2 linked regions of the Homo sapiens genome follow. The protein of the gene in region 2 purifies or fractionates together with the protein of the main gene of each other region. This does not show direct contact. Each region holds a gene or a part of one and is shown on either strand. Other genes may lie near its edges.

What was found. Proteins that work in one complex are often made in the same cells at the same time.
Region 1: the proteins of NAP1L1 (region 2) and FNTB purify together in Homo sapiens (affinity purification with mass spectrometry; 3 studies listed by BioGRID). This does not show direct contact.

What each region holds. Positions count from the first base shown.
Region 1 is NC_000014.9:65,024,790-65,028,441, reverse strand, and holds part of FNTB (protein farnesyltransferase subunit beta), read right to left. Parts: intron 990-3,652; coding exon 843-989; intron 745-842; coding exon 661-744; intron 1-660. Other genes in the region: CHURC1-FNTB protein, read right to left, coding at 661-744, 843-989. UniProt on the Homo sapiens protein: Essential subunit of the farnesyltransferase complex. Catalyzes the transfer of a farnesyl moiety from farnesyl diphosphate to a cysteine at the fourth position from the C-terminus of several proteins having the C-terminal sequence Cys-aliphatic-aliphatic-X.
Region 2 is NC_000012.12:76,053,659-76,057,310, forward strand, and holds part of NAP1L1 (nucleosome assembly protein 1-like 1), read right to left. Parts: intron 2,504-3,652; coding exon 2,375-2,503; intron 1,433-2,374; coding exon 1,361-1,432; intron 252-1,360; coding exon 112-251; intron 1-111. UniProt on the Homo sapiens protein: Histone chaperone that plays a role in the nuclear import of H2A-H2B and nucleosome assembly.

The DNA.
Region 1 (3,652 bases), on a different chromosome or scaffold from region 2:
TAAAATCTCAATAAGCCACTGTCTTAGAGAAATGGCTTATTCAATGAATTCCCTGTATGCCTCATAAGTAATCTGCCAGGTGAGGAAGCAACTTGCTTGGTACATCAGACACTTATGGAAGAAAATAATAATTTCGAGCTAACTGGCACCAATCAGTTAATGCGATTTTATTGCACTGCACTCTCCCGGCCCACAAGGCTCTCTGCACCTCCCAGAAAAACTCTCATGTGCCTCAGGAGGACCTCAGGGATTAGACATTCTCATGATTTCATCAAATTCACTCAGAAGGTATTTACTGAGGCCCTGCTGGACTTTCCCCTCCCTTCCTATCTCAGAGAGGTGAAGGAATACATTACACCATACAGTTATTTATATTGTGGTATATCATTTTGTACCAAACAAATGTATTTTTAATTTCTAAAACAAAAGCATTTGTTTCTTATATTTTCACATTTACATAAAATAAGTCAAGTGATCATGACACCTGAGGACATCTGCATCACATCTGAATGATTCTGACGTGTCACTGACATGTCATCCCATGTGTCATTCTGGGACAAAGCAGCAGCTTCCCCATGATGTTCCTTAGGCTTGGCATCTCTAATGGCAGATGAGCTCTAGAGTCAACTGATGTGGCAGCCTGTGCAAAACCCCACTCACCTCACATCCACCTCACCTCCGACATGCATGAGAAAGGAGCCGTCAGGTTGCTTCAGGGAGTACAAATACTGAAGAAGCTTCTCTCTGAGAAACAGGGAAAGAGGTAGGAGAGGCAACAGTCAGTGCGTGTCAGCAGGCGGGGAACTCCTCTAGGTTTCTGTCACTGCTGGCTTTCACTGTACCTGTTAATGATGTCATAGGCCTCCTCGGTGCCAATGATGCACAATGCATTGACTGCTGCATATGTGGGTGCAAGGTGTGGATACTGACCGGGTCCTCCTCCAAAGCCACCTTCTGGGCTCTGACACAGCTCCAGGAACTGACACACACTAGGTACACAGCCAAAGGGCAAAAACAAAGTCAGAGAGCATTCATGTCAAAACACCAAATTCCCACTAGATTCCAGGCCTTTCCAATGATCCCCCACTCCCTCAAAAGTTGAGGGGAACCTCTCCTCCCACTTGTTGAATATAACCTCTCCCCAAAGGGCTTAATTCTCTCTCCAGCTATCATCATTTCTGTCTGCCCTCCTCTGAGTTTCGTACTTAAGCGCTTGTTGGTCATGAAGCAGGGAACACAAGGCTGGGAAGAAACCGACTTTCGTAGCTATGGGGTAAGAGTCTCCCGTGCTTCCCACACAAACCTTTCCCAGACTTTCCACTCAACTTGCTGCCCTGGACCTGTGGTACCAGCCTCCTCCTCCTTGCCTTTGGGAACCTCCCAGCCTTTGAATTTTGCCAAAACATGGTGCTCAACTGCTTCTTTCCACACTAACCATCCTAGTCAGGATCCATCACCTAGGCCTATCATGAACATGTAAATAGAGGTCTTCTCACTCCCATTGCCACCTAAGCCTCTGTGGGCCACTGATTTCTACTCCACCAGTAAGAAGCAAGTTTTGTTTTTTTGTTTTTTTTTTTGAGGCGGGGTTGCCCTCGGTCGCCCAGGCTGCAGTGCAGTGGTGTGATCTCAGCTCATTGCAGCATCCGTCTCCCAGGTTCAAGAGATTCTTTTGCCTCACCCTTCCAAGTAGCTGGGATTACAGGCGTGCACCATCACGCCCAGCCAATTTTTTGTATTTTCAGTACAGACAAGGTTTCACCATGCTGGCCAGGCTGGTCTTGAACTACCTGACCTCAAGTGATCCACCCGCCGCAGCCTCTGCAAGTGCTGGGATTACAGGTGTGAGCCACTGCATCCGGCTGAAAAACACATTTTTAATGGAGCCTGCTTCCATGGCTGGGAGAACAGAAGAGAGGCAGGCTGCTCTCATGCTCACCTTAATTGCGGTAAACATAAGAGGAGCTGCACTGACTCGCCGTGAGAATGCCTCCCAGTCTGCGGGTTCTTGGAGAATTCTCCACGTTAATTCAAACAGGCTCCCATTCCCTCACTGAGGGGAGCTGTTTTCTGAGGGTTTGCCTCCAAGCCTGGCATCAGGCTGCCCAGAGGTTACAGTCTTGCTTTAGGTGAAATCAAGAGAGCCCTATCATCAGTCCGGGGTCTTCCGAAGTGCACCAGAAAGGGTGCCCCAGGAAAGCCCTGGTTATCAAGCTGTTTCTCCACAGCTCAGCAGGGTCACAGCCTTCCCGCCAGGAGAAACCTCCATTTACAACAAGCAAACTGTCTTTGCAGTGTTCATGGGGCCTTCTTTCCTGGGCGCTTTCACCTCATTATTTCCTTGCTACTGCTGCCAGAAAGACTACATAGCCTACTCTCCAAGAAGACACAAGTTTATAACTGTTTGCCAACATCACATTTAATTGCTTTCGATTTCAGAGTTCCCATTATCCGGGCAGAGAAAGCAAAAGCAAACGCTGCTGCCTTGCTCTGTGAGTTCTGAAACGTCACAGGTTAAAACAACACATACTTCTTTTTGCACCTACAATTTTACTGTAGAAAACACAAGGATTGAAACTGAAGTTGAAAACAATTATGTGGCACTATGGTTTTTGTTTTTGATTTTGAGAGAGGGTCTTACTCTGTCGGCCAGGCTGCAGGACAGCGGCATAATCACGGCTCACTGCAGCCTCAACCTCCCCAGACTCAAGCTATCCTCCCACCTCAGCCTCCCAAGTAGCTAGAATTACAGGCATGAGCCACCACGCCTGGCTAGTTTTTGTATTTTTTATAAAGATGGGGTTTCGCCATGTTGCCCAGGCTAGTCTTGAACTCCTGGGCTCAAGCAATCCTCCCACCTCGGACTCCCAAAGTGCTGAGGTCACAGGTGTGAGCCATCATGCCCAGCATGTGACACATTTTTAACAGCAATTAATTTCTGTAGAGAACTTGAATTTGTTCCTTCTTTCCAAATCGTCATCAATTCTTATGACATTTCCCAGAAACAAATAGTTAATAAGCTCATGCCCTAACAAAGGCTGGCTGCACTAGCATACCAAAAGGTTTCTGTACCACAAAAAGTTTTAGCTGATACAAAACTTAACAGCACATTTTTTAAAAGAAAGAAAAAGAGTCACCTGGTTATCCACTCCCTTTCCCAGCTCCTAAGATAGAATCGTGCCGAACGCAACACTACTGACCCTAAAGCCTCGAATTAGTTAGGATCTGAATGTACCAGACACACCTTGATACCATCCCTCCATGCCAACCTCCCTCAGCTGACATGCTGCATCTGACTGTCTGGGGCTGTGCTAGAGAACTGGAGGTTGGGCTTCTCTTGATCTCAGACACTTCCGTATTACAGAACATTCTGATCCCAAGGCTTTCCAACTTGCACCTTAAGGAATTGGCAAGTTGACTATGAACTACCAGCTGTCATTCACAGACTTCTTAGCAATTCTGAAGACCAAAATGTTAATGATACTTCTACATATTTAAAAAAAACAAACAAACAAAAAAAAGGAGCCAGGCATAGTGGCTTGTGCCTGTAATTCCAGTACTTTGGGAGGCCAAGGCAGGAGGATTGCTTGAAGCCAGTAGTTCAAGACCAGCCTGGGCAACACAGTGAGACCCCAGCTCTACAAAAAAATAT
Region 2 (3,652 bases):
AATGTTCAGAGACAGACTATGTACATATGTAACTGAAAATAACCGAGTATACAAATCAAGTATAACAAAAACAGAAAAAACATTTTGTTAAGGTAGTAAAATTAAACTCACCCTGTACAACCCATAATTTCTGGTCCATCAAAAGAAAAGGGATCAGAATCATCTGGTTCTGACCTCATCCTGTATGTCTTTGTCAGCACTTCATTTGTAAAATATTCATTGGGTTCAAAGTGAAATTCTAAGACAAAACTCTGGGGAGAGGAAGCATAAAAATCAGTTAAATACCTACCTCACATATTTCAGTACTTTAGTAAACACAGCTTCATCTGTTTTTATAAATATTCTAAATGATAATTTTTTTTTCTACTCTGAAATACAATCTTCTTTTTGAGACTGAGTCTTGCATTGTTGCCCAGGCCGGAGTGCAGGGGCACAATTTCAGCTCACTGCAACCTTTGCCTCCCAGATTCAAGTGATTCTGGTGCGCCAGCCTGCCAATTATCTGGGATTATAGGTGTGTGCCACCACACCCAGTTAATTTTTGTATTTTTAGTACAGACAGTGTTTCACCACGTTGGACAGGCTGGTATTGACCTCCGGACCTCAAGTGATCCACCCACCTCGGCCTCCCAAAGTGCTGGGATTACAGGTGTGAGCCACTGCACCCAGCCATGAAATATTTAAGAATGGGACAGACTGTCAGATGAGCCCCAAATTATGTTAAAATCAAAAAAATTACGTTAAAATAATAATGAGGTACAAATTGAACTGAATAGAACTTAGTTTCAATTTACATCTATTAAATAATTAACATGTTTACACAACAGGCTAGGCATTCCTGAATAAAGTGACCATGTTGCCTCCCTTACTCCCCAACTACTGGAGGAATCAGGCTTTTAAATAGTAGACTAAACGTGAACTTGACACAGAAAAAGCCCAACCTTAAGCATCTACAGCCTATATTCTTAGCAGTTTTGCCCTTAGTTGACATTAATTCTGGTGGTTTGGTGGACAGCTTGTTGGCTGATCTTTCCTCATTAGGGAGTGGGCATCCTCTAACATCAGTTTTGTGTAATTCCCAAGCTCATGCCTTTTAATGCAGAAAAAGTACTTATTCATGTTCCCTTGGCATTATTTTTATCCACTTATCCAGGAACAAGGATTGTCTGTGTTTCAAACACAATTTATGATCAGAAGGAGGAAAAGGAATAAATACTGCCTCACAATTAGCAGCATCCAAATATTTATTCACTATAACAAAGAGCACCAACCTTACCCTTGAATGTTATCTTTTTAAAAGCTTCTATTTATCTACCTGTAAGCATGTTACAAAATTATAAATATTTCAAAGTTCTTTTACCATAGGCTGGCCAGCATCTGAGAACTTCACTTTAATATCTTTCAAGTGCTTCAGAATAGGTTCATCGTGTTCCTTCAAATTAAAAAAATAATAAAAATGAATAACATGGCATTCGAGGACTGTGTTCTGTTACTACACAAACACCAGCTGACTGAGACATAATATATTTCAAAGTAGTTTTGTATAGCAATTATGAACCTTAAGACTTACTCTCCAGGTTATGGCTTATACTAAAGCTAATTTATACTGTAGTTCTACTGCCACTGGTAGAGAAAAAGTGTCCAAATAGACAACTGAATTATTATATAGGTTGAAAAATCCAAAATCAAGTCTAAATAAGGCATATCTACTTTTAAAATGTTTCCTGATTGTAATTGCTGCCTTTTCCAGCTGCTTGTCCCCTTCCTCCTGGTCGTTCCTTTTCCACTTTGCTAAAGTAGAATTGTAATAAGCAGTAATTGTGTGAAGATCATTTCTTTTTCTCCATGTAACTTCCAACAATGACAAGACAGGGCAACATGTACTACTACAATGTAGACGGTAGGGGCTCACTCAAGAAATGCTTGAGGCAGTTTCCCAAAGGTGACAACAGTTATGGTTTGCCAGAGAATGTAACCATTGTGAATGAGTTTAACATCTTTATGGTATTCTTTTAAAATGCAAATTTCTCCTGGAAGAGTTAAGGGAATTGCATAATTGCAGCTATAAGATTAACTTTCCCATCATACTTCCATACTAAGTATGTAAAGACAAAAGGCACAGGGTTATAAGAAAACACCAGTCGATAATGAGCCATTATCAATGGGACCATTTCATTATCTCATTTTTTAAAATAAACTAATTTATTTGATTACATTAATCAAAGCTGTAATTTCTCTTCTACAGATATTAGCTATTTCAAAAGTAAGCAATCATTCTAGAAAGATCAACACTGAAGAGAACAGTGATCACAGCCATTTAAACTTCAAAGGTTTACCCTTCAAAGTAAACTGGTACATTTATGAATAAAATTACCTGAACCATATCACTGAGCAAGTCAACATTCTTAAAAACAGTTAACCAAAATTCAGGAATTCCTTTGGGGTCTTCTTTTTCTTCATCTTTTTTCTCATCTTCAATCTTGGCCTTTTCTTTCAATTCCTCCTTGATTAAGTGACAGCAAACATTATTTAATACATAGATTAGACCTCATGATAAAGTAGCAAAGGTATAAAAACCAAAAAGCACAGTCACCAGATATTACCTTCAAAGTTCTAGTCTATCTGTGTAAACACCGCCGTTGCCCATAACAAACCTTAATCCCATCAAAATTACTGCTACCACACCCCTCCAAAGAGAACCACTAAGGTGACCAAGATGTGTAGGAAAAACCATTTTAGTAAAAAAAAAATGTAAAAACTAATTAAAAATGAAGACTTAAGCATAATAAACAAGAAAAGCAACAGAAATACTAATTTGGTCCATTGCCTCACCCCATGGTGTTCTTAATCAAAACATTATATTCTCTTTACCAAACAACATAAAATAGCAATGCTAGAGAGGTGGAACACTTAACACAGCACTGAATGTGTGTCACAGCTCTGCCATTATTCATTGTGGGCAAGTCACTTAGAAGCCTCCATGTCTTCACTTGAAAATGGCAACAATCCTCAGCCTACCATGAAGTTAAAAAAAAAAAAAGAATATAATGAATCTACAAACTAAAAACTGTAAGCCAGGCGCAGTGGCTCACGCTTGTAATCCCAGCACTTTGGGAAGTGAGGTGGGTGGATCATTTAAGGTCAGGAGTTGGAGACCAGCCTGGCCAACATGGCGAAACCCCATCTTTACTAAAAGTACAAAAAATTAGTCAGGCATGGTGGCGCACGCCTGTTATCCAGTTACTGGGAGAAGGAGGCAGAAGAATTGCTTGAACCCAGGAGGTGGAGGTTGCAATAAGCCGAGACTGCACTCCAGCCTGGGCAACAGAGACTCAAAAAAACTATAAAAATAGGCTGGGCACAGTGGCTCAGTGGTTCAAGCCCATAATCCCAACAGTTTGGGAGGCTGAGGTGCGAAGATTGCTTGAAGCCAGGAGTCTAAGACCAGCCTAGGCAAGAAGACTCTGCCTCTACAAAAAAAAGTAGATTAAGCTGGGCATAGTAGCTTCAGATAGTCCTAGCAACTTGGGAGGCTGAGGTGGGAGAATAGCTTGGGCCCAGGAATGAGCTGCAGTGAGCCAAGATCATGCCAGTGTACTCCAGCCTGGGCAACACAGCAAGTCCCTGTCTCTTAAACAAAAAAACTATAAAA